Linked DNA regions of Homo sapiens: all the other regions are linked to region 3. The links come from fine-mapping of genetic effects on gene expression. A gene starts in region 3. Each other region holds a variant in brackets. All regions are shown on one strand. Distances are from middle to middle.

What was found.
Region 1: its variant is fine-mapped to the expression of LCLAT1 in whole blood (TOPMed, PIP above 0.99).
Region 2: its variant is fine-mapped to the expression of LCLAT1 in esophagus mucosa (GTEx, PIP above 0.99).

Annotation. Positions count from the first base shown.
Region 1 is chr2:30,638,724-30,646,908 of GRCh38, reverse strand. LCLAT1 (lysocardiolipin acyltransferase 1) reads right to left here. Exons shown (of 6, transcript NM_001002257.3): 6 at 2,684-6,792. The coding sequence ends at 6,290. Among named protein-coding and RNA genes, the nearest start is that of CAPN13, 160 kb to the left of the region's middle. The variant C/T (reference allele first, on the strand shown) is at 4,986.
Region 2 is chr2:30,463,469-30,471,653 of GRCh38, reverse strand. The region is part of intron 1 of LCLAT1 (lysocardiolipin acyltransferase 1); the gene reads right to left. Among named protein-coding and RNA genes, the nearest start is that of LCLAT1, 20 kb to the right of the region's middle. The variant C/T (reference allele first, on the strand shown) is at 3,693.
Region 3 is chr2:30,443,207-30,451,391 of GRCh38, reverse strand. LCLAT1 (lysocardiolipin acyltransferase 1) reads right to left here and starts at 4,146. Exons shown (of 6, transcript NM_001002257.3): 1 at 4,009-4,146. RefSeq lists enhancers at 2,982-3,718, 3,916-4,035, 4,246-4,305, 4,346-4,415, 3,719-4,456 and 1 more.

The DNA of each region.
Region 1 (8,185 bases), 200 kb before region 3:
CTCAGCTTACTGAAACCTCTGCCTCCTGGATTCAAGTGATTCTCCTGCCTCAGTCTCCTGAATAGCTGGGATTACAGGCGCCCGCCACCACACCTGGCTAATTTTTGTATTTTCAGTAGAGATGGGGTTTCACCATATTGGCCAGGCTGATCTCAAACTCCTGACCTAAGGTGATCCGTCTGCCTCAGCCTCCCAAAGTGCTGGGATTACAGGCATGAGCCACCACACCTGGCCTTTTTAAAAAAAAAAAATAAAATAAATTTAAATTTTATTTTATTTTAAATTTAAATTTAAAAAATTTAAAAAAATTTTTAAATTTTAAATTTGTAAACTTCTCCACCCAGCTTTCATTTAAAACAAACAGGATGCTTTATGAATGACTTCAAGCAAACATCATTAAGAATGTATTGTGCAAAAAGAATGGCTGGGCTGAACACTGTTTGGGATAAGAGAAATGAAAGCTTATAATCCAATGGAGGTGATAAGATTGAAAAATAACTGTAACATAAGACAGCTTGTAATACACTCAAGCGAGAGCTGCAGAGAAATATCATCCATGATAGGAGGAGGACATTTCAAGCTAGATTGAACAGGATAAGCTTCAGAGAAAAAGTGGGATTCAACTAGACTCGGGCTGGTTAAGAAAGCACCTTTCACAAATGAGAAATATGTGCAAAGTTGGGAAAGGGAGAGGGGACATGAGGAGGTTTGGGCAACCAGCTGTGCTCATATGAAAAGGTTCGCACAGGAGAAAATGCCTAGAAACAAGGTTAAGCCTAGGCTAGAGGACCCAGGGGAGGCAGAGGTGTCTAGACTGTCCAGCAGTTGGTAGGAAGCACTGCATTATGAGAAGGGAAGCTCCATGATAAAACTGGTGTTGCAGTATGATCAAGGAACAAGTCCAGTGCACCAGGATTGGCATCGGGAGAATGTGGGAGCAGGAAACTGATTGGATGTTGCCAGACCTGCCCAGGTCTGATGCAATAGTTGTGTGCAGAACACAAGTAAGAAGGGCCCTGAAGAGGAAGACACGGGTGGTAGTGACAGCTTGAGTGTCCAGGAAGGAGGGACGCTGCAATATTCTGAACCTGCAGCACTGGGAGAATGTGAACTGCCTCTGCCAACAGGGAGAGCCATTAGAGCTGTAGTATTTACACTTCAAGAAATTTCCCATAAGGAAATGCTCTCAATACTGATCTCTGTGGAGGCAATGACTGAATAATTCAGATGGACCAATTGTTGATGAGATTGTCCAGACACAGCTATGGAGAACCCTTAGGTTCCCAAGTAACCCCTGATGTGGATAGACAAGGCTGCTCAGCCTCTTGATGCCTCTCACTGCACAGGAAATCACAGTCATTTGCTCCAGCCTCCCAGTCCTCTCTCCACTGGGAGGCTGGGAAATTTGATAGTTGTGGTGGACATTTGTGGTAATTTGGCCATCCAGCGTCAGTTCATCCTGTTCTTGATAACAAGTGTTTAATTTTTGTCTTAAAAGTCATCCCTCCCCCATCCATGCTGTCCAGGTTACTCAACAGGCTCCGCAAGTAACCCAGGGCTGTAACACACATCATGTATCTGGGCAATTGACTGGTCCAGGAATGGGCACTGAAACCCAATATGGGGTTGCTGTTGCGCCATAGGGACAGCAGTCTCTCTTGTTCTTTCCCACTGGACTTGAACCTGAGAGGATGCAGGGCTGAAGTGGCTGCAGGCACCATGCCACCCTACATGGATCCTGCAAATCAAGCCAAGGACAGCACAAGTTCTCTTTAGTAATTTAGTTTAAAAATATCAGTATGAAGGTGCACTGTATATGTGTGGATTAGTATCTTATGTCCATCCCAGGACATACTAGCTGGAATTTGAAGCCCTCACTAGAAATCCACCCTCCAGAGAGGGTTGCTTAAGCCTTTTATATAATTTATCAGTGAAATGAATAATGCTGAAGCTAAGTAGGTGGTGAGAAACAAAACCCTTCTCTTCCTTTTGCTTAAACGGAGGACAGGAGTCCCACAAACCCAATGTCCCAGTCTGTGGGACTGGCGCTCTTGGGGCCGGGTCTGTGCTCTTCTGGTCCTGCATTCCCCTTTCCCAGGGAACAACGTTGTGGACTCCCCTCCACATGAATCTATCACACAAAGTGCTCACTTGAGAAGACAGAGTGGGGCATTGCAGAAGGCCCCATTACAAGAGGCTCCGTGATTCTCATGTGTTTGTCTGTTTGCTAAGCACATTTTTATACATTTGTCAGATTTTGGTCCAAGATTTGCTTTTATAGTTATATACTCCCCAACGTGAGGTCAGGGACTGGAGCACAGAGTCCCACTTATCTTAGGTAAGAGTTGGTCATGCTGATATTTATATAAGATCCCACATTTGTGGAACAACCAAATTGTTCTCAATAGCAAGGCTGTGCTAAGAGATGGAGGAAAATCAAGTTCTGATGACATTCGTTGAGTCCTTAATTCAATTGTGGTGCCTGGACTTTTCCTATTATGGAGGTAGTACATTGTTTTCTTGATTAGGCCACTTTTCTTGACATCTGTGGAAAAAAGAGACCTAACTGGCCAGGTTTTTCCTTAACACTAGACACTGCAATGCAAGGCATTGTGGGGAAAAAAGTAGCACCTTAACTTGCAGTTACTTGTTATTCCTGCAAAAACAGAACGTAACACACATGTAAACTATTTAATTCACTCCTTTATTCTGGGATGTATATTACAGATAACACAACTCACAAATATACCATCAGACATTGAAAACTAAGGCCATTCTGTGAGTTATTTTTAAAACTTGGTGTTTTGCACATAATGATCTTAAAAAAAAATGAATTACCAAAACCAAGATTCTCTTCTAAAATGAAAATTTAATGCAGGTACAGGATAACTTTAGGGCTATATCTAATCTGAAGCTTATCAGGTAGCAAAACCATTTTCGTTTTCTACAGCATAAATAACAGCTCTAAGGCAACCACTACCTCAGCATGAAGCTCATTTCTCCACGTTAGAGTAGTGTTTACCTGCTACAGTGACCAGTGTTTAGAGACCATTTCCCTTTCAGTAGCAAAAAGAGACTTTACCTAAGAAACACACTACATACTACAGAATCCTTGGAACAAGAAACAGAAAGGGAGCTGTAACTAAGGCACTGAAAGCACATTATTTGTATAAAGAAATGTAAACAATTTAACACCAACAGGCTCCCTCCGTTGGAGTCTTTATTGTAAATGCACACAGGGGCATCATAGTCAGGGCTAGAGTTTGAAGTCTGGGTGAAACAAATGTTTCTGCAGAGTTCAGAGTCTTGGCTGCCAATATATTTCTAACATGGTGCTGTTGAATTAACTATTTCAAAGTGACTCAAGTGGAAGCTGGTATTTCCCTTGAATCTGAGTTTTAATAGCATTAACAAACAAGGAAGAATTTTATAGGAGTCCTAAAATTACGGGCTCTTTCTAACATTTATTTGAGTCTTTTATCAAGTTCTTCTAATGAATTTTAGGATTATTTTGGCTTATTTCATCAAGGAAGTTTGGTGTAAGAACTTGTTACCTAATGAGTGCCCCTCCTTGTAAGTTCATATTTCAAGTTACATGGTTCATGCCATAAATAAACCACACTTGCTTTAACATCGTTCAGAATGGTACATTTAACAATTGGACATACAGCACTGTAAACAATTCAAAGTCCATTGAGCTTACCATGAAAGAACTGAAACGTATGTAGGAACTGTGTCCTGCTGCAGACAAGCAGCTGCTCTGGCTCTGGTGCGGTGCGGTGCAGTGAGGTGAGGTGGGCAGGTGTGGAAGGGAGAATTCCTGAGGCCAGTCACAATTATTGAAGCTAAATTAATTTCTTCCTGACACTTTAGCATTAATTCTAAGTAGTTCTAAGTTCTAAACCATTAACTGTATAGTTAATTTTTTTAAATCAAAGAAGAAAAAGGCTTTCACACAGATGAATGTATAGGAAAACACAAGTAATGACAATTTTCAAGAGCCTTATTGTAAAAAAAGAAAGAAAGAAAAAAGGACAATTATTTTTGGAGTTACTGTCTCTAATTCTTAAAAAGTAAGTACAGTGTCTGTATCTCTAAGTTTTAGTGCTATACAGCACTAAATGTACTTTATGAATTTGGGGTAGGTAAAGTTTGTATTTTATCTTAAACATGTTTTCTATGATGAAAAGGAACAAAATTGTAAAAAATGAGGATCTTCCCTCTAAAGGTTTCAAAGCGTTAGAGGACATGCAATTAAATGTTGTTACACCTTGAACAATGAGCCTCTTGAGTTTGTAGGAAGGGCAGACCGGCTCCATTACCAACAACTTTGGGGTAGAAAGCACAGCTCTCCTCTTTTACCCAGCACAAATGCAATCCTGATTATAAAACTATTTGTGTTTCTAAATACAACCAAAGGAAATCTTAGAGAAACATAAATTAGAAACCTCTTTTATTAAGGGGAAACAACAAAAAAAGGTGCTTTTTTAAAAAAAAAAAAAAAAAAAGAAAAGAAAAAGAAAAAACAAGCTGTAAAACCATGAAGTTAAAGAGCTGGGTCTGGAGCAGATGTGCATAATAACTAGTTAGTTGCTCCCAGCAGGATCAGAAACAGCTTTGGGGGAGCAGAGGAATATGGGTTGGTGTGTTTCAGAAGAGGCACCAGTTAATACTCTTCCAATAAAAATGATGTGTCAACAGTGTTCAGCCTCAACCAGTGCTTTCTCACAGAATCTGCTTGGTAAGTTCAGTTCACAATGTGTTTACCTTTCATGGCAATGCACGATGCAATTATTGGGTAGGTCACTGTCAAGCAAAAACGAGATATAATTACAGAGAAGGCATTAATGCCCAAAGAGTACATAAAGCAGTAAGTAGCTTCTGAGGCTGGTTCAATGCAGAAGTAAAACTAACAGGTTTGCTAACAGCTAAAGACTTTTAATTGCCTCATATTTTCTGCAGCTCTGACCAGCATCCTTCTTACA[C/T]GACAAAAAAAAAAAGAAAAAAAAAAAGAAAAAAAAGTGTGCAGCTCCAACAGAGTGAAAATGACAACACTTTTCTTTTGCCTCAGAAGAAGACTGGTGCTTGGTGTGCTGGATTTTCCACTGACTCCAAATGACAAGAATATTTGGGCAAACAATTGGTCAAAAGTGGGTTTAAATATTACTATTGAAAAAGGAAGGCTAAAACTAAAAAGAAAGATCACTTGCTATCATTATTAAGGATTAATTTTTGTGTTTCATTTTGGTTTTAAGGTAAAATTTGTCAAGGCTACAAGGGGTTGAGTAATTTAGGATAAACCATTACTGCCCTGTCTGCAAGCCATTTGTTGTTTTAATGGTAGATGTTAGATACCCAAGCACATGTAGAAAAAACAACCTTCCTTTTTTGGTAGGTTGTAAAGAAATATTTCAAAAGACAGTTTCTGACTGGAATGACAGAATGTTCTGAGTGTTCCTTTAAAAAAGTATGTGACTTCATGTATACCATTTTTAACAGAAAAAGCTACACCTGCCAAAATGTTGTAAGAAAACCAGCACTAAGCATGCAATACTGAGTGTGAGAAAGGAACTTAAACTGTATTACTTCCTATCTTTTAAAATTCAAACTAAAGTTTCAAAGTGGAGAGCCTGTGGTTGCTCCCTGAGTCCAGGTTTTATCTTCCACGAGAGAAAAGGGCACAGGTGGTCTTCTGACGTCTTGGTCAGCATACAATGTTATGAATAATGAAGGGCTTCCTGTCAAAATGCTTGATCGGTTTCACGACAAAGGGGGTTCCATTTTCTGATCTTAAGGATGAGATGGGTTTGGCGCAGGAAGAAGGACGCCAAGGGAGGGAGCCTGGGCACCACCTGCCTGAGTACCTGGAGGGACAGCGCTCACCTCAATGAGGTGACCTGGGCAGTCCAGTAACAGCATGTGATCCGGGCTGTTGTTGACGAGTTCCAGATCTGCCTCTGGTACGGGGAGTCTGTTAGGATTGGGCCTTTAAGAAAAATGTGTGTGTTCCTTGTCGCTAAAAGCCTGATGATTGTTTAATAATATTCTGGCCCAAGTTATTTCACCCCGATCACTCCCTGCTATGTACACAGTATCGAAATTACATTCAGAGATTAAAAAAAATTGTAGCAATATTTTTCCCACAAAATTAAGTGCAAAATATCTTTAACAAATAATGATGGCAGTAAGAAATATTCGACATAGTCATGCAAAAATGCATCTGAGCTTAGAAAGGTTTAGAACATTTCCAAAATATGCTCTAGGTTTTCACATGGCAAACCTTATAATCTTACTCATTTTTCTTTGAATTTAAATGTGGCTGTTTGTGTAAAAGTCGGTAACATGCAAGTTCTATGATCTCCAGTCCACCAAATATTCTCTCTTGCAGCACAAAGATTACAATGGTGATTATAAAATACCACTTAACAAGACTGTACAAATATATGAGTAGGCACATTGCAGGGCTGAACAGGGTCCAATACAGTATAGAGAGCAATTTGACCACAAGGACCCTGAGTTCAGACTTGCAAGGTGGAATGACACTCTGTCCGGTAAAATAAAAATTCTTCTCCCCTTGATAGAAGGAACGCAGCCTCTCTTCTTTCTCTTCCCACCGTTTGTGGCACCAGAGTTGAAGGTCCTCCTTGGATGTGGGGAGGGTGTCTATTGGATACCGGTGGACGTGAAAGTGGATTTCCCTGGGAAAGTCTCCTTGGAGGAGGTGCTTCTCTGATTGAGGAATGTTGTGAGGATACGCCACAGTGATATCATGGACAGCATCAAGGTTCTTACCTGGGTTTCGAAAAGATGAAAACATAGATTAAGCAGTGCTCAATTTGGGTGATAATGCTGATTCACACTGCAGGGCAGCACCAGAAACCGAAAAATCAGGACAGTGTGAACCACAATGAACAAACAAGGGTTAGAGATACTGGTGTTCCTGGACACCTGGGTCAATATTTACCAGTCATCTTTAGTTTTATTTCCTGCTTGCTAATTACCACAAAATATTTAGAAAGAAAATATCTTCATTTGCAGAAACAGTAATCTGCCATTCTAAAACTACTAAGCACATTAACTCAAATTTGAGATGGGAATTAAACATTACAGGGCTAGCTCCTTAAACACCAATAGAATTCAGTTTTGATACCTCCTATTAATATAGCCATCTCTCCAAATAAAAGTAGACTTTCTCACCTTTAACCCAATGTTACCACGATAGCTACTGAAAAGAAAAACTTAACTTAAAATCAGACTTAGGTGGTGAGAAACATGTGAAAACTACCATATACTTTTTTATTTTAAAAAACATCAACTTGAGCTACAGGGGCACACACCTGTAAGCCCAGGTACTCGGGAGGATGAGGTGAGAGAATCGCTATTGCCCAGGAGTTCAGCCTGGACAATACAGTGAGACTCCATCTTTAAAAATAAATAGATAAATAAACTTGAACTCCAAGTAAGACCCTGATCCTGTATCCTGTCATCCTGAATTTAACTTAGGGGGTAAAGTGTTTTCACTTAAACAGGCCAGAGTGCTAGATGCTGGAGATAGACAGTCAAGTAAGACATGGTCCTAAACCTCACTCAAGATGTTCTCAACGTAACTGGGGAGGCAGGCATGCATAAAGGCCTAAATAGACCTTATGGGAACACGTAAGGTGTTAGTAAAGGAGAGGAATGAGGTGGGGTAGTGGCAGAGCAAATGTTCTGGCAGAAAAGCACAGTGGGGATGGGAACACTAAAAGTGGGCAGGAGCCATGTGGTCCAAGACCCCATGTTATTCTTCAGAATTTAAACTCAATTCTGTAGGTGGCAGAGAAGCATTTTACATGGTGGAGAACTACTTAAGGATTTCAGACAGAAGGAACCCATATGTTTCATTTTAGCAAAGATTACTCTCTGCGGGCAGTGACCAGAATGGTTTGGAGAGGACCAAGGGCAAAAGAGGTAGAATAGTTTGATGGCTACTACAATACAGCAGGCAAGAAATGGAGAGGACGTAGGGGCCAAAAAAGACATGTCCAAAAAAGTTACAAGGAAGAACGGATGTGACACCGTACAGTGGCCAACTGGATGTGGGAGACGGATGTGACACCGTACAGTGGCCAACTGGATGTGGGAGAATGGGGAGGAGGAGCAGGGAGGAGTCAATCCAGGTTTGTTTTTGGCTCAGGGTACCAAG
Region 2 (8,185 bases), 20 kb before region 3:
TACAATAACATCAAAAGAATAAACCTAGGAATAAATTTAACCAAGGAGGTAAAAGACACTTTGAAAACCACAAAACATTAACAAATTAAGGAAAATCTAATATATGGAAGGATATACCAGGTTTAGGGATTAAAAGACAATACTGGCCAGGCACAGTGGCTCACGCCTGTGATCCCAGCACTTTGGGAGGCTGAGGCGGGTGGATCACTTGAGGTCAGGAGTTCAAGACCAGCCTGGGCAACATGGCGAAACCCTGTCTCTACTAAAAATACAAAAACTAGTCAGGTGTGGTGGCACACACCTGTAGTTCCAGCTACTCAGGAGGCTGAGGCAGAAGAATCGCTTGAACCCGGGAGGCGGAGGTTGCAGTGAGCTGAGATCACACCACTGCACTCCAGCCTGGGCAACATTGTGAGACTCTATCTTAGAAAATAAATAAATAGGCCGGGTGCAGTGGCTCATGCCAGTAATCCCAGCACTTTGGGAGGCCAAGGCAGGTGGATCACGAGGTCAGGAGTTCAAGATCAGCATGGCCAAAATGGTGAAACTCCGTCCCTACTAAAAATACAAAAAATTAGCCAGGCGTGGTGGTGGGCGCCTGTAATCCCAGCTACTCGGGAGGCTGAGGCAGAGAATTGCTTGAATCCGGGAGGCAGAGGTTGCAGTGAGCCAAGATCGCACCACTGCACTCCAGCCTGGGCAACAGAGCAAAACTCTGTCTCAAAAAAAAAAAAAAAAGAATGAATAAATAAATAAAATGAAAATAAATAAATAAAAGACAATACTATTAACATGGCAATACTACTCAAAGCAATCTACAGACTCAATTCAATCTCTATCAAAATTCCAATAACTTTTGCAGAAATGGAAAAGCCAATCACCAAATATGAATGGAATTCCAAGTGGTTCCAAGCAGCCAAAACAACACTGAAAAAGAACAAAGTTGGAGGACTCACACTTCCTAATTTCAAAACTTACTAAGAGGCTACAGTAATCAAAACAATGTGGTACTGAAACTGCCTTTGCAAAATTATAACAGTGAGAAAACCCTAACGTAGCTGACTCCATCTTGCTTCTAACCTCATAAGCTGTCTCTGCTCATTCCTGCACATAGGCCAAGCCAACTATGGGAGGAATTTAGTTTGTATTTTAACTTTAAAGCAAATATGATAATAGTCCTTTCCCAAAACTAACCCCCTCCTTGTTTAGAGACCAAAACCATCTTTGTAAAAAATAACAAAAGGACACAAGGTCAGAATTACAGTAGGAGCCTGAATTCTGCTAAGACTTAAGCATAGTTAAATAATAACAAGACACTATTTTCTAACTTGTCTTTTTTGTAATTACTTACTAGACAGGAGTCACTAGCCAGTGGTCATAAGACTTGTAACTTCCCCGATTACCCCAATAGATTACCTCATTATTGTAAAACCCAAGGCTGATTCTTGAGGTATTTTTCAGACCTCGTGTTCTGGTGGACCAACTGATGCCACCTGGGTTACTCATACCATGAAATTGACTCAACTGGCCCTGTAACCCCCACCCGAAACTGACTCGACACACAAGACCATTTTGACACTCGTGTGATTTCATTCCTGACCCAACCAATCAGATGCAGATTCTTGCTGGGCGTGGTGACTCATGCCTGTAATCCCAGCACTTTGGGAGGCTGAGGCGGGTGGATCACTTGAGGCCAGAAGTTTGAGACTAGCTTGGCCAACACAGCGAAACGCCATCTCTACTAAAAAATACAAAAATTAGGGCCAGGTGCAGTGGCTCATGCATGTAATCTCAGCACTTTGGGAGGCCGAAGCAGGTGGATCATGAGGTCAGGAGATCGAGACCATCCTGGCTCTCTACTAAAAATACAAAAAATTAGCTGGGCACAGGTGGCACATGCCTGTAGTCCCAGCCAGGTGTGGTGGTGGGCACCTGTAGTCCCAGCTACTCAGCAGACTGAGGCAGAAGAATCGCTTGAACCCCAGAGGCGGAGGTTGTAGTGAGTCCAGATCACACCACTGCACTCCACCCTGGGTGACAGAGCTAGACTCCGTCTCAAAAAAAAAAAAAAAAAAAAAAGAAGAGACCTGTAGCCCAATTAATTGAGAGTCCAGAATTATGACCATACATCTATGGCCAACTGATTTTCAACGAGGGTGCAAAGACCATTCAATGGAGAGAGAACAATATCTGTAACAAATGATACTACTGGATAGCTACATGCAAAAGAAGGAAGGTGTCCTCAAACTCATTCAAAATCTATCAAAAACCTAAACACAAAAGATAAAACTATAAAATTCTTATACGAAAACAAAGGTAAATCTTCACAACCTTGGATTTGGCAAGGGATTGTTACATGTGACACCAGAAACATGAGCAACAAAAGAAAAAAAAAATCAACTGGACTGCATCCAGATGAAACACTTTTGCACGTGAAAGACCACCATCAAGAAAATGAAAAGACAACCCACAGAATGGAAGAAAAATTCACAAGTCAAGGGTCTAGTATCCAGAATACATAAAGAACTCTTACAACTCAACAACAAAAAGACAAATAACTTTTTTAAATGAGTAAAGGACTTGAATAGATATTTCTCCAAAGAAAACATACAAATGGTTGATAAGCATAAGAAAAGCTACTCAACATCATACATCATTGGGGAAATGCAAATCAAAACCACAATGAGATATCACTATATACCCACTAGCATGGGCACAATTTTAAAAATGGAAAATAACAAGCATTGGTAAGGATGCAGAAAATTTGCAACCCTCATATATTGCTGGTGGGAATGTAAAATAGCAGTTTCTCAAAGAGTTAAATAAACCTTGAAAACATTATACTAAGTGAAGAAGACACAAAAGGTCACGTATTGCATAATTTCATTTATATGAAATATTCAGAATAGGCAAATCCATAGAAATGAAAGCAGACTGGTGGTTGCCAGAGGCTGGGTAGAAGGGAGCAACTGCTTAATGGTACACAGTTTCCTTTGAGGTGATAAAAATGTTTTGAAACTAGACAGCAGTGGTGGTGGCACAACACATGAATGTACTCAATGCCACTGATTTGTCCACTTTAAAATGCTTAATTTCTTGTACAGTAAATTTCACCTCAATTAAAAAAAAAACAGATATATATCAAATGGCTATTTTTTTTCCCAACTATCCACAGTGGAGGTCATTTACAAATGACCACAATGGAAATTTCAATTAATTTTGCAGGGCAATTGCCAAGTCAATCCTAAGCCAAAAGAACAAAGCTGGAGGCATCACACTACCTGACTTCCAACTATACTACAAGGCTACAGTAACCAAAACAGCATGGTACTGGTACCAAAACAGAGAGAGAGACCAATGGAACAGAACAGAGCCCTCAGAAATAATACCACACATCTACAACCATCTGATCTTTGACAAACCTAACAAAAACAAGAAATGGGGAAAGGATTCCCTATTTAATAAATGGTGCTAGTGCTGGCAAAACTGGCTAGCCATATGTAGAAAGCTGAAACTGGATCTCTTCCTTACACCTTATACAAAAATTAATTCAAGACGGATTAAAGACTTAAATGTTAGACCTAAAACCATAAAAACCCTAGAAGAAAACCTAGGCAATACCATTCAGGACATAGGCATGGGCAAGGACTTCATGTCTAAAACACCAAAAGCAATGGCAACAAAAGCCAAAA[C/T]TGACAAATGGGATCTAATTAAACTAAAGAGCTTCTGCACAGCAAAAGAAAGTACCATCAGAGTGAACAGGCAACTTACAGAATGGGAGACAATTTTTGCCATCTACTCATCTGACAAAGGGCTAATACCCAGAATCTACAAAGAACTCAAACAAATTTACAAGAAAAAAATCAAACAACCCCATCAAAAAGTGGGCGAAGGATATGAACAGACACTTCTCAAAAGAAGACATTTATGCAGCCAACAGACACATGAAAAAATGCTCATCATCACTGGCCATCAGGGAAATGCAAATCAAAACCACAATGAGATACCATCTCACACCTGTTAGAATGGCGATCATTAAAAAGTCAAGAAACAACAGGTGCTGGAGAGGATGTGGAGAAATAGGAACACTTTTACACTGCTGGTGGGACTGTAAACTAGTTCAACCATTGTGGAAGACAGTGTGGCGATTCCTCAAGGATCTACAGCTAGAAATACCATTTGACCCAGCCATCCCATTACTGGGTATATACCCAAAGGATTATAAATCATGCTGCTATAAAGACACATGCACACATGTTTATTGTGGCACTATTCACAATAGCAAAGACTTGGAACCAACCCAAATGTCCATCAATGATAAACTGGATTAAGAAAATGTGGCACATATACACCATGGAATACTATGCAGCCATAAAAAAGGATGAGTTCATGTCCTTTGTAGGGACATGGATGAAGCTGGAAACCATCATTCTCAGCAAACTATTGCAAGGACAAAAAACCAAATACCACGTATTCTCACTCATAGGTGGGAATTGAACAATGAGAACACTTGGACACGGGAAGGGGAACATCACACATCGGGGCCTGTCGTGGGGTCGGGGGAGAGGGGAGGGATAGCATTAGGAGATATACCTAATGTAAATGACGAGTTAACGAGTGCAGCACACCAACATGGCACATGTATACATATGTAACAAACCTGCACGTTGTGCACATGCACCCTAGAACTTAAAGTATAATTTAAAAAAAATAAAAAATAAATTTTGCAGGGCAAGCTTCTGATTATAATACAATAAAACTAAGAGTAATTCAAAACAAACAACCCTAAAGATTTGAAATTCTTAAGCCTTCCTAAATAACTGTTGAATTAATGAAAAAATTAAAAATATATAAGACTTGTAGTTCCCATATGCTGATGTTAATCCAGATTACCAGGGGGTGGGGAGCTTGTTAAAAATGCAGAAGCTCAGGCCCTATACCCAGTGTTAAGTAGAATTGGAATATCTGCATTTTTAATAAGCCTGCCAGCTGAGACTGATATTCACCAAAGTTTAGAACCAGTGCAACAGAATATTTAGAAAAAATATAAAGACATCGCATATCAAAAGTTACAGGATTCATACAAAGCTGTACTGAAATAGTTTCTAAAATAGTATTTAAATAAACAGAACATAAACTAAGCAATGCAAATTTTAAAATCAAGCAGTCAAATTTTTAAAATAAAAGGTGTGATTAAAAAACAAAAATAGAAATATGGATGACAGTAAAAATGATTGATTAGATAACAACACACAGAAAGGGTCAGGCACATTGACTCATGCTTACAATCCCAGCACTTTGGGAAGCCAAGGTGGGAGGATCACTTGAGTCTAGGAGCTCCAGCCCAGCCTAGGTGGCAGTGAGACCCTGTCTCAAAGAAAAAAAAAAGAAAGCAGGAAAGAAAGAAAAGAAAAGAAAAGAAAAAAAGAAAACACAGAAAAAACAGCGGAACTTTAAAATGAGCTTGGTTCTTTATGAAAAAATTTACAAAGTCCTAACAATTCTAATAAAATAAAGAATTATCAAATAGGTAAAAGCAGAATTAGGAAATTTAATCATTTTTAATAAAGCAAGAAAAATAGTTTGTCAGCAAACTGAAAAAATACAACTCATCTAGACAACTCTAAGGAGTTACTTTATCAAAAATATAAGAAATTATATGTCAGTAAAAAAAATCAGAAAAAAATTAATTGTAACATTAGTTATATAATCTACCACTTGGTTGAAAAAAATAAAATTTGGGGAAAGTTTTAACAAAATGCAATGGACTTGAAATTCTTTCTGTTAAAGAAGACTTTTGTTCTTTCATGCCACTTCACTAATAAGAGAAATAAATACACTTTATTGTCCTCAATTCAAAAGCAAATCTCAAAATAATATAAATGATTCTAAATTACTCACTTTCCAGGCTTAAAAAAAGTCAAAATATTTCCTTATTAACTTTACTATTGAGGTTAACTTTTCATTTTAATGTCATTTTGGTAGAGTGTTTAGCCTGTTATTCAACACTGAGAACCAATAAATAACGGTGATTAGCAAAGAGTAGATAAGAATTAAGTGCTATTCACAATAATTAACATAGTAAATATAATGAATGAATCTTTCTTGTTTTAATAAAAGGGGCACAGCCCTTTTGTCTTTAGGGTGTACAGTAGTTTCCTATCGCTGCTGTAACAAGTTACTTGGTGGCTTAAAACAGAAAGTTATTCTCTTCCACTCCTAGAGGCCAAAAAAAGTCTGAAAGCAGTATCATTAGAACAAAAGCAAGGTCACACTCCCTCCAAAGGCTCCAGGTGAGAATCTGTTCCTTGCTTATTCCAGCTGTTGATGGCTGTGGGAATGCCTTGACTTGTGGCCGTTAACACTCAAATCTCTACCTCCTGGTCCAACTGCCTCCTCCTCCTCTGTGTACGTATAATCTCCCTCTGCCTCACTTTGATAAACATACACAGGATTGCTTTTAGGGACCACTCACATAATCCAGGATAAGTGCCCTAGACATCAAGATCCTCAATTTAATTACAAAAACCATTTTTTTTAACATACAAGGTAACATTTCACAGGTTCCAGGATTAGGACTTGAATATTTTAGAGAACCATTTTCAGCCTACCACAGAGGATCTCTTTAAAAACCTAACAGGCCTGGCCAGGCATGGTGGCTCATGCCTGTAATCCCAGCTCTTTGTGGGCAGACTGCTTGAGCTCAGGAGTTTGAAACCAGCCTGGGAAACATGGCAAAATTCCATCTCTATGTAAAAAATAAAACAAAAAGTAAATAAAAATTTAAAAAGAACAAAAACAAAAAAACCCTAATAGGCCAAGCCTTTTCGTCAGGAATTAGATACTATCCTAGTCTCCAGATTTACAATGACAAGGTCATAGGCCTTCTGACCCTAGACACTGCAAACAAACACCACTGAAATTAACTCGGGAATTTCATCAGGTGCACAGGAAACTATCACAGGGTATATCCATTTGCCCCAAGAATACAAGAGAAGTTTTGTCTGTTTCACTGTATGAGTTAAATTCTGCTCAAATTTTGTAGTCTCAAACTACCTATCTGCACGTATCTGACATGCAAATAAAAACAGAGCGTTCTTTCTCTTCTACATTGGTAAGAAGGGGTCTTTTTGTTGGCAAGATTTTCTTATTGCCCCAACATACTTTATAGAGTTGGGTAATAATAAACTAAGTTTTTAAATAAATTTGAGACAAACTACTTTCCAAAGGCAGCAAAATTTATTTTTATCCTCTAAATTTTTCCAGACACACAATTTCAAGACCCACTAGCCCTTGAATCTCCTCCAGAATCAAGCAGTTTCATTCCATAAAATCAAAATAAATTCCAGATGAATTAAAGAGTTACATGTAAAATATGAAAACATTATAGAATTACAATAGGAAAATGGGCCAAGAATCAAGAGTCACATACAAAAATGAACACTAAAAAAAAAGGGAAAGAAATCAGACTAATATGTAGCATGACACCATGTTTCCAATTACTTTTTCATATTTGACAATGATAGTATCCAGCAAAGTGAGGGCATAGGAAAATAAGGCCTCAAACATACAATTGCTAAGAGAATCAACTGATAGAGCCCTTTTAAAAGGCAAATTCAGCATGGCTGGCAAATTATAAAACACATATACATTTTTACACAATAATTTCATTCTAATCTATCCTACAAAAGTACTCATAAAAGTAAGAAAAGATAAAAATGCTCACGGAGGCACTATTTGTATGTGAAAATTAGAAATAGTATAAACGTCCATCAACAGAGAAATGGTTAAATTATGGCATAGCCATATAACTGGAATATTATGCAACCAGTTTTTAAAAAGTGAAGCACAGTCATCTAATATCCATGGGGGATCTGTTCCAGGGCCTCTTGAGGACATCAAAATCAACATATGCACAAGTTCCTTATATAAAATGACATCATATTTGCATATAGCCTGCTCACATCCTCCAAAATACTTTATCTCTAAATTACTCATAGTATCTAATACAATGTAAATGCTATATAAATAGTTATATTGTTTAGGGAACAATGACAAGAAAAAAGTCTGTACATGTTCAGTGCAGAGGCAATTCTTTTTCAAATATTTTTGATCCATGGTTGGTTGAATCTATGAATGCAAAACCTGTGGATACAGAGGGGCTGACTATACATTAACATAAGCA
Region 3 (8,185 bases):
CAAGCATTTGATCACGGGTAGGAGTAGACAAAGCCACAGTCTTCCAAAGTGACTGTACCATTTGACATCCCCACCAACAATATGTAAGAGATCCAGTTGGTCTACACCCTTGCCAACACTGGCCCCCACCAACAATATGTAAGAGATCCAGTTGGTCTACACCCTTGTCAACACCGGCACTGTCCATCTTTTTAATTTTAGTTATTCTGGAAGGTGTATAGCAGTATCTCATTATTGTTTTAATTTATATTTCCCACTGGCAAATAATGTTAAGTACCTTTTTATGTGCATACTGGCCATTCTGAGACCCTCTAATAGACAGTGCCTGTTCAAGACATCTATGCATTTTTAAAATGATTTTTCTCATTAATTTTGTTTATGCTACACACACACAAATAAACACACACACACGGTATGAGTCCTTGGTCAGATATATAAATTGCAAATTTCTTCTTCCGGTCCATATTTTGCTCTTCATTTTCTTAGTGGTGTCTTCAGATGAAGAGAAGTTTCCAATTTTAAAGAAGTCTGAAGACAAATTTATCAATCATTTTCATGATCATTGCTTTCTGAGTCCTTTTTAAGAATCTCTGCCTATTCCAGGCACTAGTCCTTTATTTGCGCTTATGGTTTCAGCAGTTCTCCCCCTTGCTTTGACTTCATGAAATCCTGCATCTTTTGCAAGATTTGCACACCCTACCTTGTAGTCGATTTGCACTGCATTCATGTTATGTTGTTAGGTGCTGGACAACTTTAGTGTTACACACGTTTAAGTGGAGATCAGCTTTAAAACTAGAGAAACCATCAGTGATTACTTCCATATTACAATGATTTCTGTACAAATATATTCAAAACCTAAAGTAAAAAGAAAAAAATTCTAACACCCATTATCCTAGCATTTTTGTAGCATAAAGTGGAAGCTATGCATCTAATCGAGATCCTTCTACAGTTCCCACTGCCCGCAGGAGAGTTCCCACTCTCTTAGCTAAGAGTTCACAACCTGGCTCTAACCTTTCCTGGCTTCTCTCCCAGCAACACCTGTAATACTGTGGTCTGACCCCTGGACACCATGAGCTCTCACTTGTCCTAGCTTTGCTCTGTTTCTCCCTACGCCTTTATCCTCCAGTTAGCTCCCTTCCTCTTCTGGCCAGGCCCATCCCAGAAGAAGTAACTGTTCCCTTTTATGTGCTCTCACAGGTCTCTGTACCCACAATTATATTTGAGTCCTTATCATGCTTTATTAGTTAATCATTTATTTATTTGTCTCAACTGTCTACAAACTTCTGGACCTGGGACTTCTCCCTGAACTCCTCAAGGGTAGGGTCAGGAGTTAATGTTTACATCCTAAAGACTTGGCAGGGCTATTCCATAAAGGTTCAATGAAACAATAAATGTCCTAGCCACTTTTACTCATCCTATTTTATTAATAAATAAAGACTGGAAAAATTAGCACAAGTATATCAAAACAACAAGCTTAACTAAAATCAGTTTTCTTTTAAAAGTCCCCCAGCAAATTATTCTTTTAAAAAATGTAATAAAAACAAAAATCCCAATTATTGATTTGTGCTTCCTGATAGAAATTAGTCATAACTAGCCAGGCACAGTGGCTCACACCTGTAATCCCAACACTTTGGGAGGCTGAGGCAGGCGGATCACCTGAGGTCGGGAGCTCAAGACTAGCCTGACCAACACAGAGAAACCCCGTCTCTACTAACAATACAAAATTAGCCAGGCGTAGTGGCACATGTCTGTAATCCCAGCTACTCAGGAGGCTGAGGCAGGAGAATCGCTTGAACCCGGGAGGCAGAGGCTGTGGTGAGCCGAGATCGTGCCATTGCACTCCAGCCCTGGCAACAAGAGCGAACCTCCCTCTCAAAAAAAAAAAAAAAAGAAATTAGTCATAACTCTGTTTCAAAATAACTTTTTAATTAATGGGCAACACAAGTAAGAAGAATATACCACTTAACCAAAGTAAATGTAATTGTTACCACACAAATCACTATTGGACGCCAATGGAATAAACCATGATTATTATTTACACAAGATCACAAACAAAACTACTGGCTTGAAATATGTGTTCATTCTAGGACATTGCTAGAGCCTTTGAAAAAGAAAAATATATATATTAAAAATGAAAAATTTGTACATGAATTAATGTTTCCCCTTAATACATAACACATCTGTATGTCATAGGAAGATAGTAGGCATGGTGGTAGTAAGACAGTAAGAACACAGGCTGGAAACACAATGCTAATTGTGTGATATGGACAAATTACTTAAACTTCAATGTGCTTCAGTTTCCTCATCTGCAAAATAAAGATAATAAATGTATCCGCCTCACAGTGATGCTAGATGACTGAGTTGGCACATATAAGTCCCCGGATTCAGTGCCTGGCAGAGTACATGAATGCAGAGGAATAAATTTCAAATATTTTCACTGTTTTTTTAACTTTTTAAAGCCCTTTCACACATACTGTCTTTTCTTTTTCCTCCCAACAGTGCAATGAGATTGTTTGAATAAGAAATACTCACTTTAGAGATAAGACACCAATAGTGAAGTTGTATGATTACCCTAAGATATTTTTAAGTGGCAGAGTTTGGACTAGAATCCACCCATAACCTCAACCCCAGGACAAACTGACCAAATCTCCATGGATCCAGTTTGGAAGAATCTTTTGGGTTTTCCCCATTGCTTCCTCCTGGTTGTCAGCAACAGCCAGCCTAAAGACCTGGTGGGGGCAGATGCAGACGACCATGTGTTCAAATTAAAAAGTAGGAGAAGCCTAGCTTTCACAGAAACTGACACATAGTTGGCACTCCAGAGATTGCAGCTATTGATGACTGAAACACAAGCGCTATTACGTTTTTCTCAGTTACAGAACAAGGTACTACTCCATAAAATCAAGCCTACTACCAAAAACAAAAGTCAGTTAACATTATGCTTATCTGTCATATCAAGCATATCAAAGTACAATGTGCAACAGAAACCTAAACGAAAAAGTGATGATGTATTTTTACTTACTCTCAAAAAATATGTTTTACAAAAAGGGCTTTCATCAAGTCAGTTTTTTGAAAACTAACCCACGTAGTTATACTTCATGAGATGACGTTTCTTTGAACAAATAAGTTAATGATATGAATAAATATTTCATCTTGGTAATGCCTTCAACACATATCTTCAATACTTTTCTTGGACTTAAAGTGACTTCAATCCCTAATCTCATCTACTGCCATGTACACAAGAAACACAGTTAATGAACTTTAAAGGCAGATGCAGTATTTCCAGGGAAGCCACCTGAACCAGGGAAGTACAAGAAAGCAAAACATCTCCACAACCACATCTAAGTGCCTTATCTTTCAACTTCTTTTCTTCAAATGGGCAATTAGAAGCTACGATACACCTTAAAGATCAGGTTTGGCATCCGCCCTGGCTAGGGCCTACCTTTCTTTTCGCGGCACTGCCACTCTGGCACCTACAGGCAGGCCTTTGGCGCCTGCAGGACTCGCAGGGAAGACAACCCCAGCCCCTGCTCTCCACGGCTCTCGTCGAAGCCCCGCACGTGGTGACCACTTGAGACGTTTTAGTGCATGGGATTTAACAGGGTCAGACCTCAGGTTGCGTTCCGGGACAGTGCAGCTCCCAGACCCGCTGAGGTCGCAGGAGGAAGGTTTTGACGCTCCTAGCGTAAACACCGACGGGACCCTCTTCGCCCCGCGGCTACCTCGCCCTCGCCGCTCGCGCGGCCCCTCAGCACCTGACGCCTCAGCCAGCCTCCAGGAGTCGCTTCCCCGCGCCTCCTTCCACCTGAGCCAGCGACGCTACCGCCACCTGCACCGGGACCCCAAATGCCAGGCCAGTGGCCGTTACCCGAGGTCGCGGCCCGGGGAAGGTCCATGGCTCAGGAGGAAAAGCCCGGGCTGCAGCTCCCCTTCCTGCACCTCTGAGATCCCCCGGCCGCCGCCATTTTCCTCGCGCCGTAACCCCACCTGATAGTTCCAGCCTCCCACCTGTGACAAGCAGGGCACGCCGCGCGACGCCGAGTGGGGTGCGTGGGCAAGCTGGGGCTCCGTAGGGGTCACAACCTCCGTGCGGAACCCGCCGTTAATTCATCCCGTAACGCGGAGGCGTCCGGCCGTCGCCCTAGTAATGCGTCCCGGAAGGCTACGTCCTGATTGGCTGCAGGCGCCGTGACGCAACGGCGTCCCCGGCTGCGTGGGAAACCCGGGTCCCCGGCGCCCCGCGCTTGCTCCACAGCCCGGGATACCCCGGGTACCTTTCTTTGAGAGCTCCTTTAAAGAGGCCTCGCTTATTTCCTCGTCTGGCCTCCTGGAGAGGAGGGACCCACGGAACGGTGGGGTGTAGGGGTGAGAAAACAACGAAATAGGAAATTAGCGGAGGTCATTTGTCCGAGGGAACCTAATGGTTCATTCAACCCCTAGAGCTGCAAAATGGAAAACAGAAATCTGGGAGTTTAATTTACAAGCCTAAATTTGGTGCGCGAAGTCACAGGACAAATCAGTAGTAGAAGCAGTTATAGAACCCAGGTTCCCTGATCAGGAGCACAAAGTTTTTCTAGCACACTCAGTGTTTCCCCAGTCCTAGAAAATGTTTCCTCCCAGTTCCCATAGCAATTTCATCACACTGCTCTTAAAAGGTCTCGATCACCTATCATGGTGTGTCTGTCCTGTCCCCTAACCTACTAGATTGCATGCCCCTGAATGGTGGGGACTGTGGTTAAACCCCTTTTCATTTCCCTTAAGCAATTCCCTCCTCAACTTGGCCTTCAACAAATACAATAAGAATCTTAAAAATAATAAACATAGCTACACATCACACACAGCCACTCATCAGTAGTTCATGTATGTCTATACGTTTTATCCGTTTATTCAACAAAGCACAGAGTGAATATTTTTAAAATTACAAGGTTCCTGACCTCACAAAATTTATGGTGTAATAATAATGACCATCTACATGTTGGCTGCATAGCTTCAATATAGCTAAATTATATCCCCAAATTGCCTGTAAATCAAAGATTCTTGTGCTCTTTTCCTAAATTAGCTTCATAATTTCTCTAAGTTTGTTCCAAAACATTTTAATATTTAAGATGTGCTAAAATTGCATCAGAAAGTGAAGAATGACTACAGAGAGAAACACCAGAACAAAAGTCAATTCTGCCAATTATGCCTATGACTTTAGGCCTCCTTTTTACCTTTAAAATAAGATTACTGGAATAAAAGATCTCCCAATTCTTTTTTGTTGTTGTTAAGAGTTGGCCTGGCTATGCTCCAGAACCTTCAAGGGCTCTACTGTGGTTCTTTGGGGGCTTGCCGGAGGTTCCTCATAGCCTTTGCAGCTCCATTGCAGAGAGCTCTAGCATTGTGAGGTGTGTCCGGTGATACAGCCCAAGAGGCAAGGTTGCCCTTACCGCCCTAACCACAGAGGACAGTGCTGGGCTCTTTCTTTTTTCTTTTCTTTGCTTTTTTTTTTTTTTTTTTTTTTTTTGAGACAGGGTCTCGCTCTGTCACCTAGGCTGGAGTGCAGTGGCATGATTGTGGCCCACTACAACCCCTGCCTCCTGGACTCAAGCAATCCTCCCACCTCAGCCTCCAGACTAACTGGAACTACAGGCATCTGCCACCATGCCCAGCTAATTTTGTGTTTTTTGTAGAGACAGGATTTCAACATGTTGCCAGGCTGGTCTCGAACTCCTGAGCTCAAGCTATCCACCCACCTTGGCCTCTCAAAGTGCTGGGATTAGAGGCTTGAGCCACCGCGCCTGGCCCTGAGCCCGTTCTTGATCTGAGCTACTGATCAGTAGCCACCTTCCACGTCAACTGCTAAAGGGATAGGAACAGAATTCCCAAGGGCAAAATATGCTGATTTCTAAACTCAGAGATCTGCTAAGTGTCATGCTTCTTTCTTTTTGGCAGAGGTGCAAGGTGTAGTAACATGTTTTTCATTCTGGGGAAAATGTCTTGACGTGCCCAAGATCATTGGACCACTTCAGCATCCAAAATGATGTATAGTTTACATAATGCTATTGTACCAGGATCATTCTTTGTTTTGATACATGTTCTATGCTTACACAAGATGTTGACATAAGGGGAAGCTAGGTAAAGAATATATGGAAAAATCCCTGTACTCTCTTTACATCTCTCCTAAGTCTAAAACTACCCCCCCAGTTTTTTAAATAATTATTTTAAAATATCACCAATGTAGCAAGCTCCTGAATTTTTGTGGGGTTTATCCGCGTCTGAAATGTATGTATTTCATCAAGACATCCAGAGAAGTAGTCCCCGACCTTTTTGGCACCAGGGACTGCTTTCGTGGAAGACAGTTTTTCCATGAACGGGGTGAAGGGTGAAGGGGGTGATTTCGGGATGATTCAACCACATTACATTTATTGTGCACTTTATTTCTATTATTATTACATTGTAGTATATAACACTTAAAAAGTGGTGTTAATCTGTGCTCTACTGTCCCAAAGGGACAAGTTTCTCAATCTTTCCTGACCCCAGTAACAGAGCATCACAGCTGATGAATTGCTGAACCTCATGAGCCATTGACTTAATGGTCACATTTAATAGGGCACTCTCTGTAATGCTCAGGGACACACTATGACATACAGGAAATCTCAAGTCCTAGTTCTTATTGTACTTTTGTCATTATTGGGGTACTTTCTATGCCCATGTAATTGCTCACTCCTCTTCAAAATGTGAGAGTAATAAGGGAAAATCTGTGCTCAATAACAGACCTCAGAAAAGAGCCAAGTACATTGCCGCCAATAAAATCGGAGCAAGTCTCTCCCAAGGTAATGAATACAAGCAACATGCAGCCCAGTGCCAGCAGAGGCCACAGATACTTAACTGGAGGCCCAGAGTGGCCCATTTATTATAGCCTACAGTTTATTGCTTGCAAGCAAGAATTGCAAAATTTCTTTTGCAATTCCCTCTTTGCAAAAATTTCTATGAATGAGACTTAGCATTACCTAATATCACCAGTCATCCAACGAGATTCTGAAATTCAAAAGGCATTTGAAATGAAATGTTTTAATTTCTTGAGACATGGAGTAAGCCATGTCTTTGGTAGCTGAGGAGTTTTGGTGCTAGAAGGTACAGCTTGGAAGTAGTGACAAATTTACATTAGCACAAAACAGCTGTGGAGTCTAATTATTAATAGTTCTGATTATTCTCTTTTTGCTCCATCTCTCCCCTTCCCCGTTCCCCACCCCCATCTTTTTTGTTGTTGTTGTTGAGACAGAGTTTCGCTGTTGTTGCCCAGGCTGGAGTGCAATGGCACCATCCTAGCTCACCACAACCTCGGCCTCCCGGGTTCAAGCAATTCTCCTGCCTTATCCTCCCGAGCAACTGGGATTACATGCATGTGCCAACCACACCTGGCTAATTTTGTATTTTCAGTAGAGACCGGGTATCTCCATGTTGGTCAGGCTGGTCTTGAACTCCTGACCTCCGGTGATCCACCCCCCTCAGCTTCCCAAACTGGTGGAATTACAGGTGTGAGCCACCTCGCCCGGCCCCACCCCCATCTTTATGCTGACTTGTCCGGCTTTCCTCTCCTGACTCCTGGTCTTTTGCCTCTGGCAGGGTTTAGCCAATGGGAGGCCCTGGCTGGACTCTGCAGGGTGGGCTGAGAAACAGCTCAAGGCTGCATTCCCCTGGCTCCCTCCCTGTGGGGCTGCAGGGTGGCAGTGGCTTCAACACTTCACGTAAGGCCACAGCTCCTTGTCTAGAGCCCAGCTCTCACTGGATTCTGGGACCCACTCCCCGCCTTGTCCCTTTAGGCAGGGCCCACAGGGTGTGTGATGGCCTAACTTATTGTGTCTAGCCTCAGGGTACTTCATTGCCCTCTGTTAATTTCCCTTAACGCTGATTGTACCTTTGTAGTCAGCCTTCAACTCTCTTTAATCATCCCTCTGTGCCAAGGGTGTCACTTGTTTCTTGTGAAAACCTAACTGATATATTGATGGACCAAAATTTCACTTAGGCTAAAAAGATACAACTACCAGAAAGTATGTTTAGAACCCTGGTGATGAGTCACTCATCCAACATAGAAAAAAACAATTTTATCCTATTGCTACTACTCAATACAAACCCTCTGTATCAGTAAGGAACACCTTCCTCTGTAAGTTATCACAAACTCAACTAACAGTGCAACTAACAGTGG